7 linked regions of the Homo sapiens genome follow. The protein of the gene in region 1 purifies or fractionates together with the protein of each later gene. This does not show direct contact. Each region holds a gene or a part of one and is shown in the gene's direction. Other genes may lie near its edges.

Region 1 (3,500 bases):
TCAATACTAAAATTCTATATTCAACATTTGATAGTCCTATAGAAAGTGAAAAGTAGTACAATCAATTCTAAACCATTCTTATTTATTTAGAACATACAGCATTTTTATAGGATTTAAGAAGTAACTAAATTTTATCCCTAAATATAGTCCATCTAAGCCTATATGAAAGTCAGTGTATAATTTTTGAAAAGGGAACTCAGAACTCTGCTGGCAAATAAATCACCTAAAATCTAAATAGTGCTTCCCAAATTTACAATCTACTGGGCACACCAGTAATCAAAAGTTTAGCTCATAAGCAAATATGAAATGTGTATTTTGTGAGGAAGACAGAATAAAGCTATTGGATTACAAATAAGTCTGGAAGCTCATTTCTGCTTTCCTCTGTAGCACTGGGCCCATCTCATTGAATAGCTTCTCTTACCAATTTGGCAGAGAACAGATTTAGAAGCCAGCCTCCAGAGTTCATGTTCAAACTGTGGATCCTGTCTTTCTCCAGCACCTAATCATGATTCTTAAAGTTAGAGAGCTCTCACTTTACTTTTCTAAGTTATTTTAAGCTTCATAATAAAATCTGCAGATGAAATCATGTTTTATTAATTTAAAGAAACTTTTCTCACATTTTGTAAAGCAAACATTTAAAATGTGCTGGTTGGCATTTGAGAGACCTCCCTGGGAATGGCGGAGATAATGGGTCTTAAAAGCAAAAACAAGTAAGCCAAAATTGCGTTTACCAGATGATCACTTTAAAATAAAAACGATATAAAGAAAACATAAAGAATGACTTTCTAACTGCCAAATGCAATAAGTCATTGAAAGTCAAGGGATGTCAGTGATATAACATTAATTATGAGCCAACCACTGAGTATTTAGAGTGAAGTCAAGCACAGAAGAAATCTTTAAAGAAAACACAAATGTCCCTTCTATTGGTTTTCACTGGTTACTTCCATACTGGAAAGACGAAGGACTGTCCATAAAACTGTTTCCAAAGGCTTTACCAACTTGATCTTCCTTCAGATGTATGAGCTTTTGCTCATAAATGATACAGGCAGAATTTCATACTTATCTCTTTGGTATGAAATTCCCTAGTCAGCAAGGTTAATCAGAGTCCTTTTATTAATCAGGGTAATGCACTTTAAGTACTTCGTTTATGGCCCATAGCCACTGATTCCTTGGTTGGTAGTCATATTTTTAATTAAAATAACCAATGAATGATTTCACTTAAAAAACTTTCTGGCAGGTACTCTGTTTCCTTTACTAAGTAGCAACTTATATCCCAATATTGTGAAAGCTCTTATTTCCACTCTCTGAATGAATAATTTCTTTATCACCTAATTTTCCTCTTTGCCAGAAATTCACTCTCCTGCTTTCCCATTTCCATCCTAGGGTTCTTTTCCTTTCTTCGATGTTCAAACTTTTTTCTTTTACATTTTACACTTCAAACTTGCTTTTATCCCCCCTTCCCAGGGGAACTTTGAGTTATCTGGAAAATATTAGCTATTAAAAAATAGCCAAGAATTGTGCTTCAGTCTGTAATCCTTCAGGACTGTGTAAATACATGGACACAGGCAGAGCAAATGTCTGCTAATCCAGCCACGAGCAGTGTGTGTAACCTTTGGCTGTAATAACAGAGGCTTCTCATGTGTGGGGTTCTTTTGACTCAGATAACATTATAGTTGATAACTGTTGCAGAGCCCAGGCTTAGCTGAAGGTTTACCAGAAATGTGTACATCCTCTCCAAACGCTGGAGCAGAACCAATCCCCTCTTCCAAAAGAAGGCCCAAACACTTTGCTCCTTGCTATATTTCTAGGCAGCTTTCTACCCAGCTATTGGGGCATATCTCTTTGGTTTCAGATTTAAATTAAACACACACGCGCACGCGTGCACACACACACGATTAGTCTGCATATTTTCTTTTCAGGGATAAAACTTCTCAAATTCCTTTAGAACTTTTAGCTACAAGTGATATCAGTTTGGAGGTAAACTGCATGTAGCCTTCGGATCATAGACGGCTATTTAAAGATTTGGGGGCAATGGAGTTTGAGAGTTAGAGTTGATTCTGTGGGTACTTGTTATATGAACATGGACACTTTATACTACTTAACCTCTTCCAGACTAATTATCTTCATTTGTAAAATGGAAGCTTTGACAAGACCCTCTCTAAGTTCAGATTCTGGCATGCAGATAATTAATCACATTATGAAGGTGAAACTATGTAAACAGATTATGTATCATGGTCAAAGCCACATGGGCATGGCCTGTATTTGGGAGTTCCTGTGGGTTTTGTACACAGGGGAAATAATCTCTATTTTTCTTTTCTTCTTAGTGGAGCTTCTTATTCAAACAGAACTCTTCTGCAAGGAGCTGTCACTGCACACAGACTCTAGACATGGGGTAGCGTGTGAGTGGTTTACATTAGAGGGAGGCAGCCGCTGCTTCACCTCCCACCCCTAGCTCCCATGGGCTTGGTTCCCCGGTTCTCCCTCACCTCTGTCCTTTGTGAAGTCTAAACACATAGTAAAAGGGCAGCCTGAAGTCTGCAGAGGTGAGCAGAGGGGGGCTTTTGAAAGACAAATACTAGGAATAAATCACATTCTAGGTTTCGAAGCCCTGGAAAAATTTTGCTGTGGGAAGAAGGGAGTGTGTAAAAAATGAATCTGCCTCATCAGTTAATTGTGTTTCTAGCATGCTGTGGTCATTGGTGGTTATATTTTGGGGGACAAATTCTGATCTCTTGACATATCAGCATCAGCAGAAGATTGTGAATAGGCACAGCCTCATCTGTAGTTTTTGAAGATAGCTTTACCTGGGGTTTGGTCCTCCATGACAGTAAGTGTATTTACTTCCACACTTGCTACACAGTGACCTGTAGGCCCAGCCTCATTTTAAAGTGATGATTGTACGCTGATGGCCCTTTTGCCAGGGGCTGCTCTTTTCTCTGCTCAAAGCAGCAGACTTTCCTGATATGCTCAGGGCTGAATTATTCAAAAATCCCTAGCCCCACATTACCACCAAAGTTTTGCAACACAGCTTCCAGATACACTTCAGTATACCCTAAGCTATAGCCTGCAAACTGTCCTCTTGCCATTTCTCCACTTCAGCTCCCCAGAGGCAGCAGCTAAGGTGTCTTGTTACCACCTACCTACACACATTCCTATCTTAGGAGAGGTGAGTTGTAACCACAACTCCATTCTGGGAGTTGGCTGAATTCCAGGACCTTGTAGTCTGTGAGCCTGATTGACCAGATAATGTTTATGATTACAGGAGATGCAGAAGAAACTGACTGAGAGGCCAAGGATGACTGACTCACATAATACACGAACAGGATAGAGTCTTTAGGTGCTACCTGGAAGTTAGGAGGAGGAAAAAAATTCAACTAGCAAATGCATTTCCATATCAGAGATGTGAAATATTACAGATGAATTGAGGATCTTCTTCCTTTCCTTGTGATTTGTGAAGCAGGCTTGGAGGTAATTCTATTCTGCTTCCACAAAGACAAAGA
Region 2 (3,500 bases), on another chromosome or scaffold:
TTGTATGCATCACAGACAAAGCAGGCACTTCCACTCTGTTCATCTGAAATCTAAGGGATACTTAATTTAGGGTAATGGCTCCTTAGTGTTCCCCTTTGGTGTTTCTCATGTGATTTTGCTTTACTCTTAATATTAACAAAAACAGCTTTATATGCATAGACAACAGCAAGTATTTTACATTCAAAAAATCGACTGAAAGGTAATAGAATTACAACATTGTCTAGATTTCATCTTTTGGCCTGATTGCATATGCAGGCTATGAGGATTATCTTGGAGAAAAGGGAAAGCTAGAAGTACCATAAGCATGATAGTCACAGGTAGGTAGGGCTATATTGCCAGGCACTGTCCTAAACATTTTAATTCATGTAATTCATTATAGTTCATATATAATTCTCATTGAGTTGGGCCCATTATCGGGTGGAGCAAGTGGGGAGAGGAGAGGCTGGAGAGGAGCCCCAGGTGCCATCCGAGGTCCTTCTAGCTGGCCTTACCCTGGGGGCCGGGCGGGGGCAGCAGGCGTCTAGCAGGGAGGCCCAGCGGGGAGGGAGCTGCAGGGGGGCCGCGAGCGCCAGCGGGGACTGGCTGGGAGCAGGGCAACAATGGGCGGAGTTTTCCGCTCCTCCCCGCCCTTGGCTTGAGCGCTCCAGCTCGCTAGTGGCCCGGGCGAACTGGAGTTGCCGTGTGACGCGTGGGCGGGACGAGGCCCGGGCTCGGGGACCTTTCGCACTCGGGTCAGGGGTAAAGCAGCCTGTCGCTTGCCGGGCAGCTGGTGAGTCGGTGACCTGGCCTGTGAGGTACGTCTGGCAGCCCAGGGGCCGTAGCGGGAGCCCTTGAGGCCGGTAGCCTTGCAGGGCTGGCGCCGGGCAGGAGCCGGGTCGCAGCGGCTGACTGCACAACTGCGTGCGAATCGGCGACCGGGGCGAGGGCAAGGGCTCCTGAGGCCGCTTGGAAAGGGCTTTTGGGAAGTCTAGAAAGCCGCATGAGTCACTGTTGCTTTCGTATTAGAAATGCCTTGTTTTCGAATTAGAAATGCCTTGCGGTCGGTTTTCAGTTACTACTTTAGAAAATTGATGTGCTGGGATTTATTGCCCTCAGTTGCTTGTATAAAGGTGGACAAATCTGAGCCTAGTAAACTCTGAAGTGTTAAATCTTAAAATGTTCAATAGTGAATTTATTATTATCTTATTTTAAATCTGTTGCGATATTAACGTTTGTTTGTGTGGTTTTAAAAAGATTACAGAGAACCAGATTCTGGATTTCAGAAACTGCTTGTCTTGATAAGGAATTTAAAATGGGCTGGGGCTAAGGTAAGATGTATATAATCCTTGAGTTAATGAGTTGTATAAAAAACAACCTTTAGGCCGGGCGCGGTGGCTCACGCTTGTAATCCCAGCACTTTGGGAGGCCGAGGCGGGCGGATCACGAGGTCAGGAGATCGAGACCATCCTGGCTAACACGGTGAAACCCCGTCTCTACTAAAAATACAAAAAAATTAGCCGGGCGTGGCGGCGGGCGCCTGTAGTCAGTCCCAGCTACCTGGGAGGCTGAGACAGGAGAATGGTATGAAGCCGGGAGGTGGAGCTTGCAGTGAGATCGCGCCACTGCACTCCAGCCTGGGCGGCAGAGCTAGACTCCGTCTCAAAACAAAAAAAAAACCCAAAACCAACCTTTAAAAAAAAGACGGAAGAAAGAACGTGTGAAGTGAAAAAAGTCTCAAGGTAAAATTGCAAAATATTTTTTAACATAATTTTTTTAAACTAAAAGCTTTACAGACGGTCTAATGCAGGTTGTCTCATCAAAGATAACCAAATTGTTCAGTTAGTATTTCGAGTGTAGTACTCATAGAACACATAGGTATCCTGTGGATAGATGCTGCGCTTGGCCTTTTAGCAATGACTAGGATGCCAGGCAAATAAGTAAAAAGTAGAGGTCTTTGGAGGGGCAGGGGCAGGTGGCAAGGGGGGCAGAGAATGTGAGAGTTGGAAGGTGAGGTTACAGATGATCTAGTCTGAGCTTTCATTCTTACAGACGAATGAAGCCTGGAGTGGCTGTGATACAGACGTTGAATCAAAACTATTTGCATTGGTATTTGGCAGTGTTTTGGTTTTTCTGAGCCTATCATGACATACAAGGGTACTGTTTATTTATTTATTTATTTATTTTGAGATGGAATTTCGCTCCTGTTGCCCAGGCTGGAGTGCAATGGCTGCGACCTTGGCCCACTGCAACCTCCGCCTCCCAGGTTCAAGCGATTCTCCTGCCTCAGCCTCCCGATTAGCTGGAATTACAGGCATGCGCCACCACGCCCGGCTAATTTTGTATTTTTATTAGAGACAGGGTTTCTCCATGTTGGTCAGGCTGGTCTCGAACTCCTGACCTCAGGTGATCCGCCCACCTTGGCCTCCCAAAGTGCTGGGATTACAGGCGTGAGTCACCGCGCCCGGCCAGTACTATTTTTGTTAGTGTTATCCAAGGCAGAAGATTCTGAACAATTGTGGTTATAATTTACTGAGGACTATGAAAATTGACTGAAAATCTTAACGGAAGTTATTTCAATAGTAATCCATTGGAATGTTAATTTTAATCACTAGTGTTGGCAAGTAAAAATACTTTACAGGTGATAATACACTAAAGGAAGAACAAGCTCATCTGGGAGAGAGAACCCAGGACTAGACCTTGGAAACTGTAGTTCTAAACCCAAATCTTACCCCTTCTGGCTGTGGCCCTTCAGATGGGTCACTTAAACTATCTGGGCTTTTGTGGCTTCATATGTAGAATGAGAGTGTTATATTAAAGAGATGACCAAGATTTTTTCCAGCTTTATTTTTTATTTTTTTAAAGAGGCTTGTGAGGAGCTATTTTTCAGCTTTAAATTGTAGTTTGTGTGGGTCACAAGAGTTAAAGCTCTTTGGAAATTTTATGGTTAAGCCATACAGTAATGACTTAGCTTCATTACATAACCACTTCATTTGTGGTTAGTTGCTCAATTCTGGTGCCATGATCTTCAGACTTCACAAATAGATTTGTGCAAAGCATTGTGTAAGCATGGCATATATAGTTTAAAGAATTCCTTGTTGCGGAAACTCCAGGTTTTGTTATTCGTTTGAAGGGTATGTGTGTTTCCTCCTCCTTTACTTCCTCCACCCCCAAATTTAGGACAGGGATACTAGAGGCAGGGAAGTTTTAGAAAGCACTTAAACTTTTAATGTTGTCTCAAAACATAAACATTTAAGGCAGTCCTCTTTTGAAGATGGCAAGGCAATATTTTGGATTATAATGGTGAAGATAAAAAGACATTTTTAGTAATCTTTTATTGATTTGAATATTAGGATCAGAGCTGATTTGGTCCAATCTTTCTACACGTAAGAAAACAGTCAAAAATATCCATACTTGGTATATATTAGAGGATTTAGACTATTGAGTTTTTGGAGTAAATAAAAGATTGCCTTTTGCTGTGCTGTATAGTGAAAGACTAGATGGAAATCTAATATTTATTAAAT
Region 3 (3,500 bases), on another chromosome or scaffold:
TCAAGCAATTCTCCTGCCTCAGCCTCCCAAGTAGCTGGGACTATAGGCACGTGCCACCATGTCCAGCTAATTTTTGTATTTTTAGTAGAGACGGAGTTTCACCGTGTTGGCCAGGAAGGTCTCGATCTCTTGACCTCGTGATCCACCTGCCTCGGCCTCCCAAAGTGCTGGGATTACAGGCATAAGTCACCACGCCCTGCCTATTATTATTATTATTATTATTTTTAGAAACAGTGCCTCTCTATGTTGTCCAGGCTGGTCTCAAACTCCTGGCCTCGAGTCATCCTCCTGTCTCAGTCTCCCAAAGTGCAGACATTATAAGAGTGAGCCACTATGCCCGGCCTATTTTCTGCATTTTCTAACATACACATGCACTATCTTAAAGCACAAAAAAAGCTATTAACAAAGAAATAATTAAAAGTAATTAGCTATAAGTTGTCAGTTTAAAAAAATCTGGACTGCTATATTCAACAAAGTTGTTTACATTCTAGATTTCAAGGCCCCTCAGAAGCACCTCCCTGTGTAAATGAGGGTTCTTGCCTCCAGAAGGTGGCCCCACAAATGAGGAGTGAAAAGTAACAGCCGAATGGCCCCACTGTTGTACTAATCTTGTTTGTTTAAAGAGAAACTACAGACACTCTCTCTATTAAAGAAAAAAAGAATGAGGAGAGACCGAGAGAATTAGAATGTGCTATATACATTACAAGATCAAAACCAGTTTAGGCCCAAGTCTTCTTGTAATTTCATCTTTTTCCTCCCTGAGGGGGTTGGGAAGCCCTCTCTTACCACAGGTTAAGAGGCGAGAGGTCTGGTGGAATTTCACATCCACAGTGCCCTTAGGAAAAGCTGGGTGTTTTTGGCAGATTGAAGCATTCTTTTTCCAGGCTGTGCTTTCACTACTGGGTACAGATAATGTGGCTTAAAGAGCTAATCGGGAGCTGGAACAGACAGAAATTCAAGAGCAGAGAGGCATCAGGACCTAGAACTTGGCCTAGACTCAGAGAGAGCTGATTCAAAGCTCAGAGCCACCAGGGACCTGCTGGGCGACCCTGGATCCATCACCAAGCCTCAGTTTCCATGTTGGAAACAAAGGGAGAACGACGTCTGGGCTCAGAGTTAGGAAAGCACTCTGTTAGCTATAAAGCAAGCTACATGGCAGAGTCGCCCTCAGCATGTGACCCCGCTTCAAGCCTGCCATCCAGTCTGGGATGTCAGACCCAGGGTTCTACTGGCAGGTTAGAGAAGAGGAGTCAGGTGGGAGACTTGGAAGATTTGGTACAACACATGGAAGATTTGGTACAACACAGAAGTTTCTGCGATTTCCTCAGACTAACCCTTAATTAACTACAAACCACGGTCTACGCCTCCTTTCCATCAATTATCTTATTTCACCTTCATAGCCAGCCTTGGAAGTGGACTTAGGTGGGTCTGTATGGCAGACAAGGTCCTTGAGGCTTAGATAACTAGAGTCTCTAGGGTAGGCCTAAGTCACACAGCAAGGCAGGTCCAGGGCCAGGATTTGAACCCAAGCCTCAGTCCTGAAGGATGCCCAAGGAACATAGATGCTGACACGCCACACTTTTCTTCCTTCCAGGCAAACATGAAGAGAAACAGCAAGAAGGTGGCATTGTTTCTAAGAACTTCACAAAGAAAATCCAGTAAGTAACCTGGAGTCATGGAGCTCAGGGTGGGAGTGGAGGAGGGGGCACACCTGGGACCCATGATCTGGGGTCTCTCCCTCTTGGGCATCTCTCTTTTAAGACACCTCCTTGGGGCAGGGAATTGAACCCTCACACCTAACGAGGAGAAAATATCCCAGCAGACCTGTAATAGGGTCCCAGAAGGGGGAGCACATAGATTGCATCATCTCATCTGCTCGGTGCCCTGTGAGGTGGGTATTAAAAACCCCATTTTATTTATTTATTATTTATTTATTTATCTTGAGACCGAGTCTCACTCTGTCACCCAGTCTGGAGTGCAGCGGTGTGATCCCAGCTCACTGCAACCTCCACCTCCTGGGTTCAAGCGGTCCGTGTGCCTCAGCCTCCTGAGTAGTTGGGATTACAGGCATGTGCCACCATGTCCGGCTAATTTTTTGTATTTGTTTAGTAGAGATGGGGTTTCGCCATGTTGCCCACACTGGTCTTGAACTCCTGGGCTCAAGCGATCCACCCACCTCAGCCTCTCAAAGTGCTGGGATTAGAGGCTTGAGCCACTGCACCCGGGGAACAACTCCCTTTTATAGACTAAGCATCTGAGGGTAAGCAAGACAATGACTTGTCCACAATCACACAGCCCCTACCCATGGGGCATAGCTGAGGGAGGACCCCTGTCACCATCCAGAAAGACCATCCCCTGATTCCCCAAATGCCCCAGCAGAATATCTTCCAGGCTGCTTGCTCAGCCTCTGCCCTGCCAGGAAAATGAGCACCTTCTCTAGGGCATCCACAAAAATGAAGTTGGAAAGTGTCCTGAGAACACTGCATACTACCCAGAGAGGTTTGGAGGCTGAGACACTGGGACACAGGAAGAGCTATTTTGCTGAGGGGAGTAGAAGGGATTCATGTTTAACAGGGAAAGGGAGCCTGGGGGAACCGTGAGAGCAGCCAAGGACAATCAGGCTGAGGCCATGAACCAAAGCCACCACGAGCCCCTAGCTGGCAGTACCTATAGGGAGCAGAGTTGCACAGTGTGGTCACGATGGCTGCACTTAAACAACTGCCAGGTGCTTCATACATACCTTCTCCCTAATCAGCAATCAGCGTCACTCCACTATGTGCGTTTCTGGCCCCTAAACTCTCTCTCTCTCTCTCTCTCTTTTTTTTTTTTTTTTTGAGATGGAGTCTCACTCTGTTGCCCAGGCTGGAGTGCAGTGGCACGATGTCAGCTCACTGCAACCTCTGCCTCCTGGGTTCAAGCAATTCTCCGGCCTCAATCTCCCAAGTAGCTGGGATTACAGGTGCATGCCACCATGCCTGGCTAATTTTTGTATTTTTAGTAGAGACGGGGTTTCACCATGTTTGGCCAGCCTGGTCTTGATCTCCTGACTTCAAGTGATCTGCCCGCCTCTGCCTCCCAAAGTGCTGGGATTACAGGTGTGAGCCACTGCGCCTGGCCCCTAAACTCTTTTCCAAGCCATCGTTGCATTTAGCCTTTGCAGCAAAAGTGTGCATCGGAGAGGAGACATGACCCTCCTTGCAATACAGGGAAACTAAGTCTCCCACAGGTGAAAGGACATACCCAAGGTCTTTACAGCTAGAATTTAGAAGGGCCCAGAATAGATCCCTGACCTCTGAGTTCCATGCTCAGTCCTTGGGCAAGGAATGCTGTTTCCTCATCTGTGAAAGGGATGCTGATTCCAGCCTTGCAGAGTTCCTGGCTGAAAGTGACATAAGGTCATGGCCCAGCGTAGGTCCTCATAAGTGGGAGTTCATTATTACTATTGTTATTGTTGACTCTTAACTTTTCCATCAGCCTTTGCAAAGAAATTCTGTGTGTGG
Region 4 (3,500 bases), on another chromosome or scaffold:
ATTTATTTGTCAGAACCTGGGAGATATTTGTCAGGACCTGGGAAATATTTGTCAGAACCTGGGAGATATTTGTCAGAACCTGGGAGATATTTATTTGTCTCTTGAACTTTGCATAACACTAAGGTTTCGGTATGATTTGATTCAGATTATAATTGACCTTTTGGCCAATATCACACCAGTAATATGTCCTTCTCTGTGCATTGGCACGTGATAAAAATCTGTCCTATTACAGTTGATATTAGTTTTATTCAGTTGTTTAAAGAGCTCCCTGACAGATTTTCCATTGTGGAGTTTATTTTTTTCTCTTTTAAGTACCTTGAGGAGATTTACTAATTAATGTGCATAAATAATCACATTTAATCTGAAAGGTTTTGCTTCTTAGATTCTTTTTGCATATGCCTTGCTTTAGAAGATGAAGAATCTCATCTCTCTTTATGGTTTAGAAAAACTGGGATAAACCCAAGCTTGCCACTTACAGGATTTTTGACAAAATATTGTCCTTGGGCCCAAAGGACTGGCATCACTGGTGAGCGCGTTAGAAATTCGGAAACTCAGCCTTGACCTCCGATTTCCTGAAGCAAAATCTGCACACTAGTTTATTGGACACATGAAAATTGGAGAGGCAGCTTCTAACTCACCATGACTTTTCTGCCTGCGAAATATACACAGCTTATTCATGTGACGTAAATGTAGCACTCAAAAATGGACATGCCTTTGTTGATGCCCTTAATGTTATACTTGTTATCAACCAGAAAAGTATTGTATATACACTGCTTATGTGGCTCTCAGGCAATTCTCTTTCCTCAGAGTTAGAGAGTATTCTTCTGCTAAGAATTACCTTATTGTATAATTTCAGTCACTTGTGTAAGTCAGAACCAGTTCTCTTCACTCGCTCATTTCACCTCGAATCAAGTATTTGTTATTGTTGTTGTTTCTTCTTCAGACTCTGTTGACGTTCAGGGATGTGGCCATAGAATTCTCCCTGGAGGAGTGGAAATGCCTGGACCTCGCTCAGCAGAATTTGTACAGGGATGTGATGTTGGAGAACTACAGAAACTTGTTCTCCGTTGGTGAGGATAACTTCAATACGTAGTTCCTCCTATGCCCTAAAGAGTTCCTTTCGTTCCTCTGCGGAATGTTTTTTGGGAGTTTCTGCGTTGCATGAATGAGTTTCAGATCCCTGCTTTTAAGAAAAACATGGGGAATAGTTGATGTAAAAAAAAAAAAAATCTTCAAAATGTGGTTCATCTTGACATAAACCTTCCTTTTTTTTCAGCTGATCTGTATCTTTCACTCTAGTGACAATTCCAGAAATTCAGTGGCATGAAATATTGTTGCCCACAACTTAAAGTCAAATTTCCACCACCAATTTTTTATGTCAGCAGTACTGAGTGGTGAAACTAAGAACCCACAGATTTAAAATACTTACTGAATATTCTAAAGGTGATGTCAGGAAGCATAATTTTGGGATTAATTTTCTAGAATCTTATATAATGTTCACTCTACTAAGCACAGTACAAGGTTGATAATTGGAGAATTTCAGCAAGAGTAATGTCACTTTTTTCTAATAAAACAGGTCTCACTGTCTGTAAGCCAGGCCTGATCACCTGCCTGGAGCAACGAAAAGAGCCCTGGAATGTGAAGAGACAGGAGGCAGCAGACGGACATCCAGGTGGGTGGGAATGAACGAAGCAGGTAACCCAGGTGAGAGGTCCAGAGGTCGAGGAGGAAGCCAGACCTTAAAATGTGGTTTGAGAAGCTCTGCCCTAGTGGAGATGGTTTCTGAGAGCCTGGGTGTCTTTCTCTTGCTGTACCCTAGGAGCGTCTTCTGTCTCATTCTCTCAAATTTTGTATAGACTCTGCTTCCTGTTTAGTGATCTTCCTTTATAAAGGTTACAGTAAAAATCAGAGTCCTCCTCCTGACGAGTAAGGGCCTGTGTGGTCTCATGGCGTGCTCCGCCACTGCTTTTGGGAACATGCCTGTACCTGCCTGTTTTTGAGGAACTCTGTTAAATGTTTTTTGATTTCCTTTGCATCATGTCTGAAGTGTGCGAGAGGCGTGGTGATGGTGATTGGTTCAGAAATCCCAGAAGTCCCGTAAACAGATGTTGTATGCTTTCTGCTTTATGATTTCGTATCCTACAGAGGTTTCAAATGGGAGTCTACAGAAATGTATACTCAGCAGTTTTCTCCGAACACTAGGCATCTGCCCAAATATGAGATAATCTAATGTTATTTTACTTCAACATTTTATTTTATTTTTTTTAGTATGAGCTGAGGTTGGTCATTTAAACTTTATATTCCCTAACTCCCAACTGTAATAGTTATAATATTATCATTTTATAATTTCTTCTTTTTTAGTATGAGGCTTATCAGGACTCTGTCATTCATATGTATGTATGTGTGCATATGTATATATGTGTGTATATATGTGTGTATATATGTGTGTGTATATATCATATATGTGTGTATATATAATATATCAACATATCCTTTTGAAATGATAGGATTTCATTCTTTTTTATGCTGGAGTAATATTCTGTTGTCTATTTAAATCATATTTTCTTTATCCATTCATGTATATATACACACACATATATACAGTGTGTCTATGTGGGCATATGTGTAACAGATTATTTTAGAAATAAAAATTGTGTATATATTGTGTACAATGTAATAATTTGATATGTGTATACGTTGTGAAATAATTAGTGCAATCACTTCAAGGAACAAATCTATCACTTCACGTAATTACCTTTTCTTGTAGTGAGAACAGTTAATGTCTACCGTTGGCAAACTTTAAGCATACAAAAGATTATTAATAGTATTCGTGAAGCTACTCATTAGATTCCCCAAACTTACTCATCTTACAACTGAAAGTTTGTACCTTTTGAACAACAGCTCATTTTCCCCAACTCCAGGCCCTGGCAACTGCCATTGTCCTCTGCTCCTGTGAGTTCAGCCACGACAGATTCCACGTCTGAGGGGGAACGTGCAGTCTCTGTCTTTGGGGCCTGGCTGAGTTTATTTAGCAGGATGTCCTTCAGGGTCATCCACGTGGTTGAATGACAGGATTTCATTCCTTTTTTATGGCTGAGTAATATTCTATTGTCTATTTATATCACATTTTCTTTATCCATTCAGCATCCGCAAACGTTTAGCTTGTCTTTATATCTTGACAATTGTGAATAATGCTGCAGTGAACATGAGGGAGCAGATAATTCTTCAAGATGCTGCTTTTATTCCCTTCAGTTATTATATACACAGAAGTGTGATTGCTGCGTTGCAGGGTAGGTTTATCTTTTTCTAACTTTTAAATAACGCCCCCCCACCCTGGTTTTCATAATGACTCTACCAGTTGAGAACTCTGAGCGTTCAGAATTGTTTTTTCTTTACATCCTTATCAACATTGTTAGTAGATTGGCGCAAAAGTAAGAGTATTTCTTACTATTTAGAAGGCAAAAACCACAATTACTTTTGCACAGCCCTAATATGTTACT
Region 5 (3,500 bases), on another chromosome or scaffold:
TCTTAAGGTTACTTACTCATGTTTCTGTATTTTTCTGACTTTGTTGGGTCTTCTACAATCAGCAGCAGCCCATGAGGACTAGGAGGCTAGGCCACTTTGTTGGATCATATTGTCATATAAGTTGAGTATCCCTAATTCAGAAATCTGAAATGTTCCAAAATATGAAACTCTTTGAGCTCCATAAAATTCAAAGGAAATGCTCATTGGAGCATTTCAGATTTTGGATTTTCAGGTTAGGGATGCTGAATATAATACAGATATTCCAAAATCCAGGAAAAAACAAAAATGAAAATCCAAAACATTTTTGGTCCCAAGCATTTCAGATAAGGAATACTCAGCCTGTAGTGCATTCAAACCCAAATGAGAAATGGGTCCCAAAACTGTTTAACTTACGATTTTTTAATTGAAAATGTAAAAACAATAAATCTGTCTTTGAACATTCTAGTAAGGAAAATACTGGATTTTAAGTATAACTGTTAACGCTGTAATGTTTGGAATTCTTAATTTTTTTACTCTTGATTCTTTTTTTTTTTTTTCTCCTAGGTTTCTCAGTTTGGGTGCAGATCATTTGCTTTGCTTTTTGATGATATAGACCATAATATGTGTGCAGCAGACAAAGAGGTATTCAGTTCTTTTGCTCATGCCCAAGTCTCCATCACAAATGAAATCTATCAGTACCTAGGAGAGCCAGAAACTTTCCTCTTCTGTCCCACAGGTATTGTATATAATGGCTTTACATTTAACTAGTCTTCTTGGAATATATAACTTATAAAGGACCATGGGCCCCATTCTCTCTCCACTTCCCTCCTCCTTTGGTGTGTAAAAGTAGGAATCTTTTTTTAGAAGACATTTTTCAAGATCCTAAATTGGAGAAATTTTAGGAACTAATAAATGACAACTGACTAGGCAAAAGATTTTTATGTATTTTTAAGTACTGGAAGTATATGAACATTACATTGTCAATATTAAAAGAGGGATAGTATTGAAATGAAAACTGGAGAAAAACCAAATTACATTGCTTTTACCTTAGTCACTTCTCATTTCCTCCTACTTGTCCCCTTTTTCTGCCCATGCATATCTGTCCCTTTTTGCACTCCTCCCACTCCCATCTGGGCTCTTATTTCAAGTAGTCAGCATAGAAAGCTTAACAGTTTTTCCCGTTTTCCTTTCTTTTTGCCCCTCTGGTTTCTTTCATTGAAAATATTTTAGTCTCTTAGTTGCTTCTCAAAATTCAACTTACAGGAAGTTTTCCCCACACTTCCTTGTTCAGGAAGAATTTTAGATTAAATTATTTAACTTTCTTTGTGTGTATTGTGAGCCGAGAACCTTATTTTAGTTGAGTACTACATTAGTACCCAGAAGTTTTAAGATTATACTGGGAATTAATTAGCTGCAAGTTACAGTTTAAGTTGCAGTTGAGTACTAATAGCCATTGGTATATGCCTTTAAAAAAATTTTTTTTAAATTTTACTTTTAAGTTTGTATTATTTATTTAGAGACCGGGCTATAAAACTGGCTAATTTTTATATTTTTGGTAGAGACGGGGTTTCGCCATATTGCCCAGGCTAGTGTCGAACTCTTGGGCTCAAGTGATCCACCCGCTTCAGCCTCCCAAAATGCTGGGATTGCAGGTGTGAGCCACTGTGCCCAGCTGCCATTGGCATATTCTTGTATTAGTTCTATTATGATATTATCAATTCATTCTGTTTGGCGTTTAATTGTAACTGAGAAAAGTAGGCAATTCAGAATTCTGTAGAAAATGCTGCAGTTCTTGTTTTTTTAGTAAACTTGTATTTCTAGTAACTGTAGTATCGTAAGAATTGATCTGTACTACTGTTGGAGGAAAAATACCAGATTTTATGAATTTCTTAAATGAACTGCCCACTTTAGTTCCTTGTAGGAGGCCTTTTATCATTTAGATGAAAATAATTTAGAATTGGCAGACATTTTTTCCACATTCAAAAACCCATGGGCCTTTTGGGAGGCCAAGGCGGGCGGATTGCCTGAGCTCAGGAGTTTGCGACCAACCTGGGCAGCATGGTGAAACCCCATCTCTACTAAAATACAAAAAAAAATTAGCCGGGCGTGGCGGCGTGCGCCTGTAGTCCCAGCTGCTTGGGAGGCTGAGGCAGGAGAATTGCTTGAGCCCAGGAGGCAGAGGTTGCAGTGAGCCGAGATCGTGCCACTGCACTCTAGCCTGGGCATCAAGAGTGAGACTCCGTCTCAAAGAAAACAAACAAACAAAGAGAAAACCCATGAGCATTTTAATTCTGACTTTTTTACTTTTCTCCCTACATTTAGAATACTGTGGCACTTTCTGTTATCCAAATGTGTCTCAGTCTCCATATTTAAGGACTGTGGGTGAAAAGCTTCTACCTGGAATTGAAGTGCTTTGGACAGGTAAGTCTTTTAAGATTTATACAGTCAAAGTTGAATTAAGTAGGACTTGCAGAAATTGCTTGTTCTTGTTAATTGAATACTTTTTTTTTTGAGACGGAGTCTCACTCTGTCGCCCAGGATGGAGTCCAGTGGCATGATCTCGGCTCACTGCACGCTCCGCCTCCCAGGTTCACACCATTCTCCTGCCTCAGCCTCCCGAGTAGCTGGGACTACAGGCACCCGCCACCACGCCTGGCTAATTTTTTGTATTTTTAGTAGAGACAGGGTTTCACCATGTTAGCCAGGATGGTCTCGATCTCCTGACCTCGTGATCCACCCGCCTTGGCCTCCCAAAGTGCTGGGATTACAGGCGTGAGCCACCACGCCTGGCCTTTTTTTTTTTTTTTTTTGAGACAGAGCATTGCTCTTGTTGCCCAGGCTGGAGTGCAGTGGCACAATCTCAGCTCCCTGCAAACTCTGCCTCCCGGGTTCAAGCAATTCTCCTGACTCAGCCTCCCAAGTAGCTGGGATTACAGGCACACGCCACCACACCCAGCTAATTTTTGTATTTCTAGTAGAGACGGGGTTTCTCCATGTTAGCCAGGCTGGTCTCAAACTCCCGACCTCAGGTGATCTGCCCACTTCGGCCTCCCAAAGTGCTGGGATTACACATGTGACCCACTGCACCTGGCCCAGAGAACTTGTTAAAATACGCTTTCTTTTACAAAGTTTACATATTCTCTTAATATGAAAAAACATCTATCATGGTTGGGGAGCCTGAGTGGGGAGCCTGAGGTGGAAGCCCCCAGGAGTTCAAGACCAGCTTAGACAACATAGAGAGACTGTAGAAAAAATAAAAAACTTAGCCAGGTGGGCTGGTGCACACCTGTAGTCCCAGCTACTTAGGGGGCTGAGGTGGAAGGATCACTTGAGCCCGGGAGGTAGAGGCTGCAGTGAGCTGTGATCATGCCACTGCACTCCAGCCTGAGCAACAGAATGAGACCCTGTCTCAAAAAAAATTCAGTTAATAAATAATAAAGATTTATAGGGAATTGGGCTAAAAGGTATTGATCCCATCCTTAAGCAGCGTTAGGAAACTCTTCTATTTTATAAAACGAAAA
Region 6 (3,500 bases), on another chromosome or scaffold:
TGTGGACAGCAGGGACATGTTGGGTTGGTAGGGGTGGAGGGAATTGATAAAATGTACCATATTGACTTATGAGTGGATAATGGTTGTAAAAAAACCTAAATAATTCCAAATAAAAGCTAACTGTTACTGAGCATTTGCTGTATGTTTCAGGTACTGGGATTAAATGCTTTACATGTATTTTTCTCATTTAATACTTGCCCTATGTGGACTATACTCCCTTCTACATATGAATAAATTGAGGCACAAAGAGATTCTCTAACTGGCCCAGGGCACAGCTAGTAAGTGACACAGTTGGATTCAGAACAAGGCAATCTGAGTCTAGAACCTGTGTTTTGATCCACCTGTATCAAAAGTGACTGCTTCCCTCCTCTCACCTCACAGGTGGTTTTTTTCTCTCTCTCTTTTTTTTTTAAAGAGATGGGGTCGGCTGGGCGCGGTGGCTCACGCCTGTAATCCCAGCACTTTGGGAGGCCGAGGTGGGCGGATCACGAGGTCAGGAGATCGAGACCATCAGGGCTAACATGGTGAAACCCCGTCTCTACTAAGAAATACAAAAAAATTAGCCAGGCGTGGTGGCGGGCGCCTGTAGTCCCAGCTACTTGGGAGGCTGAGGCAGGAGAATGGTGTGAACCCAGTAGGTGGAGCTTGCAGTGAGCCGAGATCGCGCCACTGCACTCCAGCCAGGGCGACAGAGCGAGACTCCATCTCAAAAAAAAAATAAAAATAAAAATAAAAAAAGAGATGGGGTCTTGCTCTGTTGCCCAGAGGGGAGTGTGGCGGTGCGAACATAGCTCATTGCAGCCTCAAATCCCTGGGCTCCGGTGATCCTCCTGCCTTACCCTCCTGAGTAGCTCAGATACAGATGCATGCTACTATCCCTGGCTAATTATTTAATTTTTTATAGATACAGGGTCTCACTATGTTGCCCAGTCTGGTCTCAAACTCAAGAGCTCAAGCAATCCTCCTATCTCAGCCTCCCAAAGTGCTGTGATTACAGCCATGAGCCACTGCACCTAGCCTTCCCAGGTGGTTTTGTGTGTATTTTGGAGATTCTTTTTTCTTTTTTTTTTTTTTATACTTTAAGTTCTAGGGTACATGTGCACAACATGCAGGTTTGTTACATATGTATACATGTGCCATGTTGGTGTGCTGCACCCATTAACTCATCATTTACATTAGGTATATCTCCTAATGCTATCCCTCCCCCCTTCCCCCACCCCACGACAGGCCCTGGTGTGTGATGTTCCCCTTCCTGTGTCCAAGTGTTCTCATTGTTCAATTCCCACCTATGAGTGAGAACATGCGGTGTTTGTTTTTTTGTCCTTGTGATAGTTTGCTGAGTTGGAGGTCCTTTTTTCAATGCAAAAATATATATTTTTTATAAAATGAGATCATACTCAACAGATTGTGGCCTTCAGTTGTCAGTTGTCATGAAAATCTGCCTCATCCTTTTTGAAAACAATAAAGTATTCGTCCTGTGGTCTTTTGCATTTCTGGGTATTAGCATGTCGCTCTCCCAGCATGTCCTACCAGAGTTTACTCTCACCAGTGAATGGGAACCCATCGTTCAGTGTAAGTCTGTATTCTTCCGTCTTTTATTTAAGAGCTGATTCAGAAGAGCTGGCATGCTGGGTGAACAGTTTTCTCCCAGAAGCCCCGGCTCTGCCCAGGAGAGGTGCTTCCACGGCTGCACCCACCCTGGGGCTGCCAGCCTCAGCGCCTGGTCTGACAGGCAGCAGTTTTGGAAAATGAACTTGAGTCCCCAATTTTCCTGGCACAGTGTGAAATAACTGGAAATGATTTTATTGTCTGTCGCTGCACCCCAGCCCCAGGAACAGAGATGGGCCCCTGGGAGGCCCCCATGGCCTGGCAATAATTGGCCTTTTCCCTCACAGGAGTGCTACCTGGAGGGTGACCAGACGAGCCTGTACCACGCAGCCAAGGGGCTGATGACCCTGCAAGCTCTGTATGGAACGATCCCCCAGATCTTTGGGAAAGGAGAATGCGCTCGGGTGAGAACCGGCTGCTTTGTGGTGGTAAAGGAGGGCCCTTCACACCCCAAAAGGGAGGAGGAACGGGAAGCTCCTTACAAACAAATTCAGTTGATCTTAATTATTTATGAATACTGTACTCATGAATTTGCCTACTGATTAAAATGCACTTATAACCCTCCAAGTCAGTACTCATGGTGCTTTTGTCGGCGTGCACAGTGGTGACAGTTTGAGTAACCACTGCGCATGTTCCCAACTGAGGCAGCTGACACTCCACCTTCCCATTTCAGCTCTCAGACTGCAAACAAGTGTACTTTTCACAGTCTCACTGTCATATTTTCCACACGTGTGTACTTTTTTTGGTGATTTCACTGTTTAAAATGGCCTGCAAATGTAGGACTGAGGTGCAGTCGGGTGTCTTGTGCACAAGAAGGCTGTGGTGTGCCTGGCGGAGACATTACGTGTGTCAGAGACGCTTCGTTCAGGCACGAGTCACAGAGCTGCTGGCTGTCAGTTCAGTGTGAGTGATCAACAATTATGTTAAGTCAGGCATCTTTAAGCAGAAACACATATAAAACTGGGTTACGTATTGATCAATTGACAGAAACGTTGAGACCAGAGGCTCCCAGGAACCTAAGTCTGCGTTTCTCCTAGGAACAGTGGTTCCATCTTCGCTAATTTAGTGTTTGCAGTGACTTCATAGAACATAACTACTGCGAATCACAAGAATAGACTGACCTGATTTTATGCCTCATTGGCAAATGGCAGCTGCCTTGGTGCAAGTGTCGGGATGGGTGCCAACAGCAAGGTGCTTTTCTAGAGCTGCTTATTTCTAAGCAATGCACTCTTCCAGTTTTTCTCCTTTTTTACTTTTTTGATTGTCTTTCTGGTTTTAGACAAATTTTAAAATCTGCTTGTTCCCAGGGGGGCCCCACCTCATCCAATGTTTTGTTTCCAGCAAGTGGCCAATATGATGATCAGGATGAAGAGAGAGTTTACAGGAAGCCAGAATTCAATATTTCCTGTTTTTGATAATCTCTTGTTGCTTGATCGGAATGTGGATTTATTAACACCTCTTGCCACTCAGCTGACATATGAAGGACTCATTGATGAAATTTATGGCATTCAGAACAGTAAGTACATGACATCTGTTTTCACTAATAGGTAATATGAGAAGAATATCCTTTGTGGAGGCTACTGTTTGTATATTGCACACTTAAGCATAATTTAAAGTCAGAGATCCGATTTTAATGATTCAGAGTGTAGATTAATACAGACCTTTTTGTAAGCAATTTAGCAACACATAAAACTTTTCTAACCCTTGGCCAAAGAAAACCCAAAGCCTAAGAATGTGCCTTGAGGAATCATTCCAAAAAAGAGGATCAGTGAGGTTTGCATAAGAATTTCGATTTCCATTTTCTTACCAGAATTTTCCAAACAATCTCAGTGGTTGAGTACATTATGAAATATTATGGAACCACCTGGGTGTGGTGGCTCACACTTGTAATT
Region 7 (3,500 bases), on another chromosome or scaffold:
GTGAATATCTTACAATTCTGGTTGGCAGCAGATAACTTCCAGTCTCAGCTTGCTGCCAAAAAGGGCCAATATGATGGACAGGAGGCACAGAATGATGCCATGATTTTATATGACAAGTGAGTTATATTGATAGATGGATTCAGCAGATACTTATTGAACATTTGATATGTTTTGTGGAAATAAAGATGAATAAACTCAGTCTCTGTTGTCAAGGAGCTCACAGGAGGCAGCATAAAAGCTGCTTTTATATGGTGTTTGTAAAGCTTTGGGGGTTCTTAGAACAAAAGTTTCTGCTGGGAAAGGGGAGGTGTATGTGGGGTAAACAGGATGGCAATGGTGGTGTTCAAGGAGTGTTTCCCAGAAGAGAGATTTTGTTTGGATCCCAAAGAAAGAAGGGAATTTTGCTACCCAGAGAAGGCAGAAAACAACATTCTAGGCAAAGGCATTGGCCCAGAAGCCATGGAAACGTAGGGGAAAGTGGCACTTTCAAGAAACTTGAGTTTAGATAATCAAAGGAGTGGGGAATAAATATGAGGATGCTGGTACTAATTGGAATAGATTGTAAGGGACCTTGAATGCCTATTTATGGGTATATTATACTTTCTGTATAAATCTGCTCAGGCACGTTGTTAATTAGTTTTTTATTAGTTTTCACTGAAAATGAGAGGATGGAAACATCATACAGTAAACAAAATTGAAAATATCTGGTCAGGCAGATGATGAGCTTGTGGCCAGCTCTGTAACGTATGGTATTCTTTTCATTTAACTTTTCTTACTCTGTAAAAAAAGTAATTCGTGGTCGGGCACGGTGGCTCACTCCTGTAATCACAACACTTTGAGAGGCAGAGGCAGGTGAATCGCTTGAGCCCAGGAATTTGAGACCAGCCTGGGCAACATGGCAAAACCCGCCTTTACTAAAAATACAAAAATTAGCTGAGCGTGATGGCGTGCGCCTGTTGTCCTAGCTACTTAGGGGCCTGAGGCAGAAGGATCACCTGAGCCTTGGGAGGTCGAGGCTGCAGTGAGCTGTGATCCACTGTACTCCACCCTGGGCAGGGCAGTAGAGTGAGACCCTGTCTCCAAAAAAAAAAAAAACAACAAAGGTAATTTGTTATTTGTATCCTTAAGCAAATGCTAAAGGGGTAACTTGGGGATAGAGAAAAGTCCACAGATGTTAGGGTTTGAAGACACTAATAGTATCTAGGCCAGTGGTTCCTGAACATTAGTCTGTGGGCTCTTGCTGGGCTGTCTGCATAGGAATCACCTGAGAGCTTATTAAAAATAGGTTTTCAGGCTGGTTGCGGTGGCTCACGCCTATAATCCCAGCACTTTGGGAGGCTGAGGCAGGCGGATTACTTGAGGTCAGGCGTTCAAGACCAGCCTGGCCAACATGGTAAAACCCCGTCTCTACTAAAAATACAAGAATTAGCCAGGCATGATGGCACACACCTGTAATCCCAGCTACTCAGGAGGCTGAGGAAGGAGAATTGCTCGAGCCCGGGAGGTGGAGGTTGCAGTGAGCGGAGATCATGCCACTGCACTCCAGGCTGGCTGACAGAGGGAGACTCTGTCTCAGAAAAAAAAAAAAAAATAGGTTTTCAGTCTGGGTACCGGTGGCTCACACCTGTAATCCCAGCACTTTGGGAGGCCAAGGCAGGCAGATCACTTGAGGTCAGGAGTTTGAGAACTGCCTGGCCAACATAGTGAAACCTTGTCTCTACTAGAAACTACAAAAAATTAACTGGGCATTTTGACGGGTGCCTATAATCCCAGCTACTAGGGAGGCTGAGGCAGGAGAATTGCTTGAACCCGGGAGGCAGAGGACTGCATCTCAAAAAAAAAAAAAAAAAAAAGGTTTCCAGTCCCCCTGTCTCAGAAATTCTGATTCTGCAGGTTTGAGGTGTGACCAGGAATCTTTATTTTTAGAAGACATACCAGATAATTCTGATAAATAGCCAGTTTAGGGATGTAGTCTAATTTTCCTATTTTGCAAGTAAGGAAAATAAGGCCCAGAGAGGTAATGATTTTCTCAAAGTCACAGAACAAGTTAGTGGCAGAATTTGGACTGGAATGCAGTTCTTAATGTTCTGTCCAGTGTTTATTCTGGTACAGTATGTTTGTAGAAGGTATTACGTAAGAAACATTGTTATATAGATGTTGAGATAGGAAGAGTTTACATTTAGAAATTTGGTCTAAAATGCCTGAACATTCAAGTCGTGGAGGAGTATTGACCAACTTACTCAATACAACATAGGAGATTCACATTTTGTTACAAAAATGCTGATTTAAAAGGAGAGTTTTCTTTTTTTTCTTCTTTTTTATTTTTTGAGATGGAGTCTTGCTCTGTCACCCAGGCTAGAGTGCAGTGACACGATCTCAGCTCACTGCAACCTCCACCTCCTGGGTTCAAGCGGTTCTCCTGCCTCAGCCTCCTGAGTAGCTGGGATTACAGGTGGGGGCCACCACGCCCAGCTAATTTTTGTATTTTTAGTAGAGACAGGGTTTCACCATGTTGGCCAGGCCGGTCTTGAACTCCTGACCTCAAGTGATCCACCCACCACTGCCTCCCAAAGTGCTGGGATTATAGGCGTGAGCCACTGTGCCCAGCCTGCTTGTTTTTGTATCATATATATGCATCATCATAATCATGCATTATCAACCTTTGTATTTCTGTCAGGACATAGAAACCATTAGAGTGCTTGGAAGAGAGCCTTTTTTTTTTTCTCGCATTTAATGCTTTTTTTGGTATTCATTTCATAATCAGCTTACCAAAACATTACCTGCATTATACCCCATCAAGGTAGAAATCTTTGTGTTATCAATATTGGTTACTCCCTTTCCACACCGAGTCATCAGTAAGTCCTGTTCTATCCAAATAGGTCATATGCATCTAGCTCACCCCTCAGTGCTGTTTTGTTTTGAATTTGTACATGTTTACTCCTGATGCCTTGTAGTTATGATGATGTGTTCTTATTTTATTCTGTGCATACAAGTTCTCAGCTCGCTTTTTAGGGAAAATGACCATGTCTTCCTTTCCTATAAATTCCTTTCTATCTATCAAGTCCTCAACAGAGAATAGGTACCCATAAATATGTGATTGTTAGTTTCTTTGCCTCAGTTGTAGTCTGATCCTTACAGCTTTTAAACAACAGTAGAGTTCACCGTCAAGAACTAAGGATGGTTGGCAGGCAGATAGAAAGGTAGCAAGTTGACCCAACTATCTCTGGGGAAGTGGGAACAAAGAAAGGTTACATCAGCACTGTCATCACATAGCTCTATAGTTCTAGGCCTGCAGGCTCAATCAAGTAGCCTTGTATAAGATTCTCTGGAGGAGGTGCTGAAAGTTGCTTATACTTGCTATGGAATTTGATTTTACTTCGGATATCTTTTTACCATAGGTACTTCTCCCTCCAAGCCACACATCCTCTTGGATTTGATGATGTTGTACGATTAGAAATTGAATCCAATATCTGCAGGGAAGGTGGGCCACTCCCCAACTG

What was found.
Region 2: the proteins of ASB4 (region 1) and NCOA4 purify together in Homo sapiens (co-immunoprecipitation; one large-scale study listed by IntAct). This does not show direct contact.
Region 3: the proteins of ASB4 (region 1) and HSPB8 purify together in Homo sapiens (affinity purification with mass spectrometry, with the first as the bait; one large-scale study listed by BioGRID). This does not show direct contact.
Region 4: the proteins of ASB4 (region 1) and ZNF195 purify together in Homo sapiens (affinity purification with mass spectrometry; one large-scale study listed by BioGRID and IntAct). This does not show direct contact.
Region 5: the proteins of ASB4 (region 1) and OGA purify together in Homo sapiens (co-immunoprecipitation; one large-scale study listed by IntAct). This does not show direct contact.
Region 6: the proteins of ASB4 (region 1) and VPS33A purify together in Homo sapiens (co-immunoprecipitation; one large-scale study listed by IntAct). This does not show direct contact.
Region 7: the proteins of ASB4 (region 1) and AKAP10 purify together in Homo sapiens (co-immunoprecipitation; one large-scale study listed by IntAct). This does not show direct contact.

The regions. Positions count from the first base shown.
Region 1 is NC_000007.14:95,488,943-95,492,442, forward strand, and holds part of ASB4 (ankyrin repeat and SOCS box protein 4), read left to right. Parts: intron 1-3,500.
Region 2 is NC_000010.11:46,020,624-46,024,123, reverse strand, and holds part of NCOA4 (nuclear receptor coactivator 4), read left to right. Parts: intron 1-745; exon of another isoform or gene 746-794; intron 795-3,500. UniProt on the Homo sapiens protein: Cargo receptor for the autophagic turnover of the iron-binding ferritin complex, playing a central role in iron homeostasis. Acts as an adapter for delivery of ferritin to lysosomes and autophagic degradation of ferritin, a process named ferritinophagy.
Region 3 is NC_000012.12:119,185,431-119,188,930, forward strand, and holds part of HSPB8 (heat shock protein beta-8), read left to right. Parts: intron 1-1,594; coding exon 1,595-1,658; intron 1,659-3,500. UniProt on the Homo sapiens protein: Involved in the chaperone-assisted selective autophagy (CASA), a crucial process for protein quality control, particularly in mechanical strained cells and tissues such as muscle. Displays temperature-dependent chaperone activity.
Region 4 is NC_000011.10:3,369,147-3,372,646, reverse strand, and holds part of ZNF195 (zinc finger protein 195), read left to right. Parts: intron 1-943; coding exon 944-1,070; intron 1,071-1,576; coding exon 1,577-1,672; intron 1,673-3,500. UniProt on the Homo sapiens protein: May be involved in transcriptional regulation.
Region 5 is NC_000010.11:101,804,945-101,808,444, reverse strand, and holds part of OGA (protein O-GlcNAcase), read left to right. Parts: intron 1-543; coding exon 544-715; intron 716-2,301; coding exon 2,302-2,400; intron 2,401-3,500.
Region 6 is NC_000012.12:122,249,495-122,252,994, reverse strand, and holds part of VPS33A (vacuolar protein sorting-associated protein 33A), read left to right. Parts: exon of another isoform or gene 1-133; intron 134-1,895; coding exon 1,896-2,012; intron 2,013-2,949; coding exon 2,950-3,124; intron 3,125-3,500.
Region 7 is NC_000017.11:19,936,329-19,939,828, reverse strand, and holds part of AKAP10 (A-kinase anchor protein 10, mitochondrial isoform 1 precursor), read left to right. Parts: coding exon 1-116; exon of another isoform or gene 117-199; intron 200-3,398; coding exon 3,399-3,500. UniProt on the Homo sapiens protein: Differentially targeted protein that binds to type I and II regulatory subunits of protein kinase A and anchors them to the mitochondria or the plasma membrane.